Linked DNA regions of Homo sapiens: region 2 is linked to region 1. The links come from fine-mapping of genetic effects on plasma protein levels. A gene starts in region 1. The other region holds a variant in brackets. All regions are shown on one strand. Distances are between the middles of the regions. Region 1 holds the start of TREM1 (triggering receptor expressed on myeloid cells 1). Region 2 overlaps TREM1 (triggering receptor expressed on myeloid cells 1).

Region 1 (5,382 bases):
GCCAAGCAGAGCGGAAGTGAGAAGACCAAGGTCCGTGTTTTCAGCTGGACACACAGGGCTCTCTAAGTTTGCTGAGAGACTGTAGCTTACCCACTCAGGCCTGGGGTACCTTCCCCCATGGAGCACCAAATAACAGGCTAGACAGTGCTGCTGGGTCTACTGTGTGGGTCACGGTAACACTAGTACTGCTGTTATTAATACCACACACTTAGGTCCTTGCAGGCCTGGTGAAAAATGACAAGTGCTTACCCTTTCATGGAGCCCCCTGGCATGCCCACCCCAGGATAGGCCAACAGATCTGCCTGACCTTAGGAAGACTCAACTCAGGGACTCACAAGGAGTTTAAAGGTGAAATCAGTCTTGAAAGCCAGTTCTTCTGGGAGCAGACTCCAGTTTCTAGGGAAACCTCGGAAACAGACCTCTTGGGCAACTCCCACACACTCCAGTCAGGAATGTGCCTCCAAGAGACTGTTGACCAGAGGCTGAGTGTTGTCTGAAACCAAGCCTGGTTCCCTCATTTGTTCACTCACTCATCAGACTGGCTGGGAGACTTCTCTATCATAGGCACTGTGCTGGGCTCTTTGGAAGACACACAGACTCCATCCTCAAGTTGCCACCACTGAAGCCCTAACCTCTGAAGTTAATGTTACAGATAAATCTCTTTTATTTGCCAGCTCCCCAGGGAAGGTGGGAGTTACAGGTGACTGAGTTTGCAAACTTGCCTGTCTCTCACAGAAGGAAGGAGACAATAAGAAATGAAGGCTGCTGAGCTGTCTGTGCACAATTGCAAGAAGGGAATTCCTTTGAATATGTTAATTAAAAGGGTAGCAAATACTACCTATTAAGTATTATGTGCTAAGGGTTTTTAAAGACTATCTTATTTAATCTTTATAAAGTAAAAAGTTGACACCATTATTCTCCCCATTTTATAGATAAGGAAACTGAGGCACAGACAGATTAAGTGATTTGCCCAAAGTCTCACCATAGTTAAGTACTAGAGCCAGGATTCAAACCCAAGGACTCTGGTTCCACCTAAAGCACTGAGCTACATGGTCCAACACAGTCTGATAGGGATTAGAGAAGTCCTGGCCCAAGTGTGAATAAGTATCCAGTTGCAAGGAGCATTGAGGTTAACCCCTAACCTATCCCCACAGGGCACAATGAAATATATACCACTGGTTTTCTCTCACACAGGTACATAACCTTCAGCCCTCTGCCATCTCCCAGTTCTCCTTCAGAAAAACATGAATCAAACACAAGGAAATGCACTTGTCCATGAGGAGCTAACTCCCTTCTGCCCATCTAGATTATCACCCCAGCTCCAAGAAGACCCAGAGCAATGTCTGAGCACAGGCTCTTCAAGGCAGTTGTCCATGACTTTGCTCAAAGTAGAGAGCCCAGGAGGATACCTCTCCCTGATTTTTCATGCCTTCCCAAGGCAAGCCTCGCTTTTAACTCATATTGACACTTTCCTCCTGTTATTCATAAGGATTAGGAGGAGGAGTGAATAAAGCCCGCATGCTTCTGGTTTGGGTGCAGATGTGAGCTGTGCGGATCGTAAGAGGAGACACAAGAAAGAGCTGGGGCATGCGCCGGCTCTGCTGAGCCTCAGCAACTGTGCCCTCCAACCCCAGCGTGCCATGGAGAGCTGGGATGATCACCTCCACCAAAATGAGCACCAGCCTCTTCTGGTCACGTCTGTGTCCTCAGCAGTAGTATATTTGCTGTCCCATAGTAGACCCCTGGGAAATATTTGTTAAATCAATTCTGTCTTTTGGGTTTAACAGATTGTCAACATCAAACACATCATGATGGAATATAAGAAAAAAATTTCAACATCAAATAAACTTATTGTAGATCATGCCATGATGAGATCTACTCTATCATTATTCCCATACTAGGCTTTGCATGTCTCTAACAACATCGACATGCACAGACATCTTTTTTCCCTGACTCTCTCCTTCTTTTACTTTTGTGTGCAGACACTGCATGTTCTCCCAATTCTGGGTAGAGCAGCACGGTCTGCCATAACTACTGGTTGGCTCTATCTTGGATGGCCCTGTGCTCTGAAGCTTCAACAGAAAAGGGCTCCCCGAGATCCTGGACCAAACGCCTCCCCTGCTCAGTCCTCTTCCTTGTCTTACCTGAGACAAAGAGCATCCACAGCAGCCCCCAGAGCCTGGTCTTCCTCATCCTTCCTGTGCACCAGCTCCAACTGCTGCTGAGGGCTCCCGGGACAGCTACAAGGCACCACAATGACCTAGAGGCTTCGGAAAGTTGCACAACAGGATATGAGGCCATTCCTGGGAGTCACTGAGTTTGGGTTCTGTTTCATCACCAGTTGCTCTGACTCCTGACATCAACACAATAATACAGAGACCAAGACTCACTTCTCAGTTAAGTTTCTTTGAACTCCAGTTTTCCTTTCTGTGGTAATAATGACAATTACCTTTCAACCTTACAAAATCTAAGGGAGAATGATACTTGAATGTAAATCAAAGTAAGGCATTCATATTAGGAAGGGGAACAGAGGGCCCTTTGCTCTCCAGAGGCCCCCTCTCCATTCACATCCAGTTTAGTGTAGTGAAGAGAGTCAGGCCCACATAGGGAGAGGCTGCGACAATCGTATCTCATCTTCAGGGTTTTTGTGAGAACATGTTGCTTCATCCTGCCCTGCTCAGCCCCGTGGGTTCTCTTGGCTTCTGGTGACCTGGGGTGCACCTCCTCTTCATCACCAGGAGGGCCACACCCTGCATTTGTCCTTCAGCATTGCCACAGACATGGCCTGGGAGCTCACGGGGGTGTAGGGACCCCAGAAACAATTTGAGAGGACACTGCCACCACCCAACAAGAACAGACTTAGATTTAAAAAGGAAACTTGGTTCAAGACGCTGAAGCAAGAAGAAAAAATCCAGCAGGTTTTGTACTAGAAGCAAGAAAAGACAGATTTGACAGTGTGAAAATCAAATCAATAATGGAGAGGATTCACTTCAGAAATATTCCCAAATGTGAAATGAATAAAGACATTTAGAAGAGCTCAGAAATTTAAGGGAGGACAAATCACAGAATTCCAATCTACAAATCAGAGATGTCCTTAAAGCATAAAATGGAATGGTGGATCACAAGCAAGATTAAAAATTTTATCTTAAAAAATATGCTTTCCAGGTCTGAGAAGAAATCTAAAATTGGAGGTTGAGAGTTCAACATGGGCAAGGAAAAAATTCACAAAGTGAGACCTAGAATAGGAAGTTTCCAGGTGAAAATTTTTAAATTTAAATAAAAAGATTCCTACTGCTAAATAAACAAAAAAATAACTTGGTTTCTTCAAAGGAATTGAAATAATCAGGACTCAGATTTCTTCTCTGAGTAACAAATACCATGAGAGAGTGGGATGAGGTATAAAGAACATTATGACCCTAATATTTTACACCCAAATTGATTGCTACTCAAGTATAGGAACAGCTAAAAGGTACTATCATGTCTGTAAATTAAAACAAACAACAACCAAAAAAATTTTCAAGGCTAACTTTAATTTTTTTTATTAAAGCTGTTCAATGCAGCAATTTATAAAATATAGAAAATAATACATAAACTTAAATCATGTTATTACACTTTATAGAGATCATTTGTAGTGGAGATTTTACTATGTTTATTTTTTGTTCTACAAATAATGTCGGAAAACAGGCTTCAAACATGCTTGAACTGAAATCTGCTGGCCCCTCCTTTTGCTGTACTCAAGCAGTCCCTAAAGAGGAAAAATAGACAGAAAGCTCTTGACATTTTCTGACTCAGAGAGGAGCCTACGTGACTTCTGTGGCGATGAGTCAAATTAATAAAGTTTATTTCAGTGAATAAATCCCCTCCTTACAACAAAATTAATATTCCACACTTAAATAATAGCTATTTCACATACTTTCTACATTTTTGTGTCTTCATATACTTTGTGTGGAGGATTAAGCTCCTGGAAGATTAAGAGGGAGCTTTGAACTAAACAGTCCAAGAAGAATTTTTAATTAGACTTGAATATCACTGGAGGCTGATTGCTCCTTCACATTTTCCTAACTACGGACAGCACCTGCATTTAAATTAGAATGAAGTAGAATGAGGTCTTTCTCCACTTGTCTGATCTATTTGTGTACTTGAGGTCAACAGTGCAAATAGTCACGTGTCACTTAATGACAGATACATTCTGAGAAATGTGTTGCTAGGTGATTTTGTGTTGCAGGAACATCATGGAGTGCACTTACACGAACTTAACATGGCACAGCCTACTGTACACCTAGGCTGTATGGTATAGCCTATTAATATTAGGAAGGGGAACAGAGGGCCCTTTGCTCTCCGGAGGCCCCCTCTCCATTCACATCCAGTTTAGACAAATACCTTTCAACCTCACAAAATCTAAGGGAGAATGATACTTGAACATAAATCAAAGTAAAGCATATTCCTAGGCTGCAAGCCTGCACAGTATGTTACAGTCCTCAATACTGTAGGCATTTGTAACACAATAGTAAGTATTTGTGTATCTAAACATAGAAGAGGCATAGTAACAATACGGTATTATGACATTATAATCTTATGGGACCTCCACCATATATGCAGTCTGTCATGGACCAAAACTTCCTTGTGCAGCACATGGCAGCATTCTCTAATCCTTACCACTTTATTTTTCTGAGGAGTTTAATGACCCGATCAGTAACTTCTTCAGGCTGAATAGGCAGGACGATATTCCTGCCTAACTATTAGGGTCTCTTTAAATTCTCAAGCTACTGCTCCCAACAAGATATTATTTCTTAAGGCTTCTCATAGAAGAGCACTGTCATTTGTGACCTATGGTTCCTGTTAATTTTACTAAGGCTGGGTCACATGTCCCATTTCCATGCTTGCTCATAGGGTGGCCTCTAGCACTAGGAAGATTTAGTCTTTGGGTACCATGAACCTTTCCATATTTGCCAAACTTCATCTTCAGAGCTATTATGAAATCAATACAGTTTCAACATTGATACAATTAATGAAATAATACCAATATTATTCTGTTTTGTTTTGTCTTCAATAAGTCACTGCCCCAAGTCAGTAGGTCTCGATCTTCACTATGGGGTAAATTAGCAGTTTCTTCCTTAATAAAGATTGGTTAATCTAACCTAGCTAGAATATATGTGTAACATTTTTTAACAATGAGATTGCATATAAAATATCTTCTTTTCTGGCTCAGAGGAGGGGCCCACATGGAACTGGAACACAGATCTCTGAGGATAGTGTGACCCTGGTGCTGATATCTCTGAGGAGGCCCAATGAGACTACTTCTGAGAGTGGGGAAAACTGCAAACTGGAACCAGTCACTGTTGCCCGTGAAAAGCATCACTGAGGCTACTCACAATGAAAGAG
Region 2 (5,382 bases), 13 kb before region 1:
CAACCTGAACAGTTGTAGCTGGCACTAGTCTCTACCTCCTCTTCACCCTAAATATCACGGATCACCCTACACCTGGTTCCATCATCATCATCTCCCATCATAACATTTATTAAGCACTTATTAGGCCCTAAATACTGAGCCAAGGGCTTTCCATACATCCACTGTTTAATTCTTAAGACAACCCTCTGATACCTGTGAGTCGGTTCCATTTACAGTGAGGAAACTGAGCCTAATAGAGGTTAGAAACCTTACTCAAGGTCACATACATAGAGTGTGGCTGAGACAGGATTTGCCCCAGCCCTGTCTGATTCCAGAACTCTTGTCTTCTTCTCCACATTCCCTTCTGTGCCCTGCTAGAGTGACTTCCACAGAAGTTTTGTTTTCATGTTACTGCCTGTCTTTTTGCTGTTATTTACCTTTTGCTCTACTAACGCCTCCTCTGCACAGTGAGTGAATGCTTTTTTAAGGGGAGACTCTGTCTCGCTTTTCTTTACATCTCCCAGGATATCAGCACAGTGCTGGGGGATTGCTCTGCTGAATCCACCTAATTCTCTCAACTTCAAGATGCAGTAGAGGGACCTCCAGCTTCTGTTTCATCGCCCAGTCCCTCCTGGGTCAGGCTGGACAAGCACCGTCTGCATGCATTGCCTCCTTTCCCTTTCCCATTTGTACCACATTACCTGATCCCATTCCAGTCCATCCCAAAGATATAAGAGGAAACTCCCATTAGTGGGCACTTCTGCTGGGCTGTCTACATCCCTCTCCCTGGTCCCCTCTTCCCCAGCCTGCTTACCCACTCTCCTTACCTGCAGCAGCAGGAGCAGCAGCAGCAGCAGCCAGGGCCACCCTCAGAGCCCTGCCCCCTCCACTCTATCTGCCACCCAGATGTGCTGTCTGCCGGCTGGCCCAGGGCCTCTTGTAGTTGCTGCAGGATGTTGCCCCACATACGCGGTCACCATCTCCCCACGAGGCTGGGTGGCTACTTTACAATTGACAAACCTTGGGGGAAGTGTGACTCGGGGAACAGCTCAGGAAGATGCAGAAAAAGAGAGGCAGGCTGGCCACCCTTGTGACAGCTTCTTTCCTGCCATCATGATGTCACAGTCCTGATGGGAACACTCAGTTGCTTCCCTTTCTGCACCATGGTGAGTCTAGACCCACCCACCTGATGTCCCCACTGCGTCACTCACCCCTTCAGGCCACCAACCTCCTCATCACTGACCACTGACCCCTACAACCCGCAAGCCTGCACCCCAGTCTCCCTGTGAAATGGTGCTGCGCAAACAAACATTGTTCATCCCCCAAGGCCGGGTTCAAGCCTTTCTGCTACATCCTCCCTCTTTAATATCACCCCGCACCATGGTTCCCAAGGACAGGCACGTGGCTTCACTCAGGAAGTGTGGCAGACATACACACCCAGGCTCCACCACCAGATATTCTGACTTGGCAGATCTGGGAAGGGACCCAGGAATCTGTATTTTAGCAACAGCTTAGGTGGTTCTGAGGCAAGGAGTCCAAGTTGACCATGTCTGCAAGAGCTGCATATAGGTAAGATGGACCCTGCAGCATGTCTCGGTGACTCAGGGGCTTTGCCTGAGTACCAGGTATGGGCTTCCCTGAGCTAACCTGTCCAGGCACAGGCATGGAGACCCCAGTTATAACAGTAATAGCAGTAACCACCATGGATTGAAGTCCTACTGTGTGTCAGGTGCTTTACTCAGGCGTCTCCTTGGATCCTGTCAACATTGGGAGATGGTATAATGGAGGTGTGTCATCTTTTGACTCTCCAGTACCAAACACCTTTTTCTTTTGGGGGCACAGGCCCCAATGTGTGAGTTTCACCAGATGCAGAGTTCTGCTTCCCCTTCTATTGAGGATGGAAGCAGCTATTCCTCCCACCCTTCTCCCGGCAGCTGTGCTGCAGGCACGTGACTTGACCTAAGCCTGGCCACATGCATGATTCTGCCCAGGACCCCAGATCTGCGGATGAGGCTCAAATGCAGGGCCAGTTGCAGATTACTTACTCAGAGGCAATTTAAGGATTCAGAGTCTAGGAATAGCATGGTGGCCTCCAGTATCCAGGGCAGTGGCATTGATGGCAACATGTCCAGACTGTCTCATGTGGCCTCTGCTGTCCATTCTCTCTTGGCTTCTGCCCATTTTCTAAACCCAATCCCCCAGCCTCTCATCAACTCTGAGTTACTGATATCCCCCTAGAATTCCCTTGCTGTTTTAGATAGCCAGAGTTGGATTCTGTTGTTAGCATCCAAAATCATCACTGGCATGGTTAGGCACTATCATGCCCATTAAGGCAAGGAGGAATATTGAAGCCCAGAAGGTTAACTGAGTCACCCAGGATCAGACACCCTGCAAGGATGCAGAGCTAGATTCAAACCCATACATGGTTTTCCTCCAAGACCTGTGTCGTTAGCCACACAACACTATTGTATCAGTCAAGATAACAGCAAGACACCGCTGGCTCATTGAAACTGGGTAATTGAGGAGCATTTAATAAACATGTGCATAGAATTTAGGGAATCCAGTAAGGGGTGCTTCAGTATGCTGAGGCTGGCAATAGTGGTGGGTCATTCCCACTGCTGGGCCTACAGAGGAGAGGATGGAACAGGTGGCTGGACTTGGAGATGGGAGCTGTTTGCTGAGAGGCTTGAAGGAGCCTTCAGAGGGGAATGCAGCCACTCCTGCCACCACCTGCCAGGGAGGGAGCCCTGAGGACAGAAACCCTGATCTGACTGTCTCCCCACCCTCGGCTCTCCTCTCATGCTTCCCATTGGCTCAACCAGCCAGAAGCTGGCAGCCAGGGAGCCTGCTGGTTTAGCCACATTGGTCAGGTTCCCAGGCAGGATGGGGAGGATGGAGCATGGCGTGGCCTGTAAGTGCAAATGGGAGAGTATCCAGCACGGCCATTTGTCTTCCGATTTAGTGCATATAATATTTCAGTCACGTTTAATATGTTGGACTTAAATAACACTTGATCTATAATAAGTTAAGCACACAAGCATGCACTGGACCATGCAGTGGGTTATGTCTGGATGAATCTGTATGAATGTGTCATGGGCTTTGGTAAGGAGTGTAATGACTTTTTGGAAACAAGCTTGAGATCCACTAAGAGGGAGCTGTATACTAGTATACAGTAGGTCTGCAGGGGCCCTGGACTCATAAAGCATTTGCTTTATGCTCCAGGAGAATCTGATGCGGTGGCCTAAAGACCTCTGAAAAACATTGCCCTCATGTGTTCTGCCTCTCCTAGAGTGTATTTAATGATAATACCCCCTTGCCCTGGTCACTTTGTCAACTTCATAAACAGGAACAATGCTGGGATTGCTAAAGTGTGGGGTTCCAGACCAGCAAGCTCAGCATTATTATAAACACTGCATCCTGTACAGTCACTGCCTCTGAGCTGCTTGGTTCTTTTAGGTAGGAAAATAAATGCACCAAGATTAACAGCTTCTGGATCTAGTGCGTCTGCAAAGATTCTCACCAGAGCATCAGGATGAAATAAATGCCCACCACACACCTTCTAATGGGCTCAAAATTGCGGTTCAGAAATCATCTCTCTAGGGTCATTACCATTACCTGGGCAGGTTCTGACAGAGCAGCATTTAGGGGAATGGGGAAGTCCTTATGCGATGGAGCAGTCTGGAAGCTGGACCTCCCCGTGCAGGGAACTTTTTCCACAGAAGTGGTGCTCATTGTAAAAATACATTTACCTAACATGAGACACACGGTATGTGTGGAAAAGTATGATTGCTCTTGGGAACTGAGGATAATATCTGCCCTGGGCATCACTAAATTGGGCTGGAAGGACCCACCATCCTTTCCCCACCCATGAGGCCCATTTCCCTTTAAAGCTCAAAGTAGGAAATAACAAAATCCTGATTGAAATCTGTGGGAGATTGCAAGACAATCTCCCACAGAGATTGTCTCTGTGGTGGCCTGAACACCTACCTGCTTCACCGGGGAGGGCACTGGAGAGAGCATGGAAACTGAGGCAGGTGTTCCAGGAGCAGACTGAGAGAAGAGGAGGAGGGCAGAGTGGGGAACTAGGCAAGCACATGGGGACAGCCTCCAGAAGCCTCCCAGGGGGAGAGCTTTTACTCCACCATCCCTGACCCTTGTGTGATACAGGAAAAGAGGCATTTAGACACAGGCGGAACTCCTGGTTATTCTATTCTATATGGTTTTGGGGTCCTTCAGGTAAGGAGCGCTTCAGTTTTCACTCCTGCCAGTGGGCAGTGGCTTATTCATGTGGCCTCGTTCTAGTCACATACATTTCTGCCTTCACGGGGCTATTTTCAGGATCCAGCGATAAATGCACACAGGATGTCTGACATGGTCTGTTGTTGCTCTCCTATGGATCCCATCTCGGCCTGCCAGTATTTCCCCAGAAGAAGATACTCAGTTTAACTCTTTTCTCTGAGAAGGATGCACTTTCTCACCACGATGTCTTATTTCTCCAGGTTCCACAATCTTCAACACCCTTTTCTGGGAGTGTTGGAAAGAACCACACATAAGCATGAAACCCAAGTGTCTGATGCTAGAAAGAGGAAGTCCCAGCATGGGGCGAGCAGGATGCTTCTGTAGTGGGAGCTCTGTCCAGGTCAGGCCAAAATTGTATGGTCCAGGGCAAAACTGAGCAGGAGAAGTATCAGGTGTGCCTTCTGCATGTCACAGCCCCCACAAGAGAATTACGGTGAAAAGCATTGAGCTGTCTGTATTTCATGCCAACCCCAAGTGGCTGGTGGAATGAAGGACCAAGCATGTTTGGGGCTGTAACTTCTTTTCTGAGGCACAAATGCCCACCCAAGATTATTAGAGGAACGAGGGCAGTGGGCAGGAAGGTGAGACGCTGACTTTAGAAATAGCCGGTGATTACAGATTTAATTCATGTTATTAACTCCCTGCCTTTTACCTCCTCCCTCCTCCCTTGGCACAACTGCCAGATGGATGTGGCTGGAAGTCAGAGGACATTCTCGTGGGTTCGTGGGCCTAGGGTACAAATGACCTCAGCGTGACAGCAAACAGGACAGAGAAGACCAGGCTCTTACTCAGGAATCCACCAGCCAGGAGAATGACAATGTTGAACACCGGAACCCTGCGGGAGACAAGAGGCTGAA[C/T]GCTACTGCTGGCAAAGTCTCTCCCACACGCACATGTTCCCTCTAGAAAATGCCTTCATGTCCCACTCTCCTCTGCTTAGATCCTTGCTCCACCTTTCCCGCACTGCCTGACCCTGTGCTTTTCAGTCTGTCTCATTGCCAAAAACTACTGATTAGAAACAATTCAGTGGAGAGTATAGGTCCCTGTCCAGGAGAGGCACTGGAGGGAGACAGTCGGGCTGATCAGCCCATCCTCCTCCCTGTGATG

What was found. A credible set is the group of variants that fine-mapping cannot tell apart. PIP is the posterior inclusion probability: the model's chance that the variant is causal. Sun 2018 read protein levels with aptamers (SomaScan).
Region 2: its variant is the best candidate, but not a certain one, in a credible set for the plasma level of the TREM1 protein (Sun 2018, PIP 0.84).

Annotation. Positions count from the first base shown.
Region 1 is chr6:41,284,463-41,289,844 of GRCh38, forward strand. It overlaps TREM1 (triggering receptor expressed on myeloid cells 1), which reads right to left and starts at 2,220. Exons shown (of 4, transcript NM_018643.5): 1 at 2,145-2,220. The coding sequence starts at 2,193. RefSeq lists a silencer at 4,205-4,294.
Region 2 is chr6:41,271,118-41,276,499 of GRCh38, forward strand. TREM1 (triggering receptor expressed on myeloid cells 1) reads right to left here. Exons shown (of 4, transcript NM_018643.5): 4 at 2,488-5,113. The coding sequence ends at 5,008. Among named protein-coding and RNA genes, the nearest start is that of TREM1, 13 kb to the right of the region's middle. The variant C/T (reference allele first, on the strand shown) is at 5,136.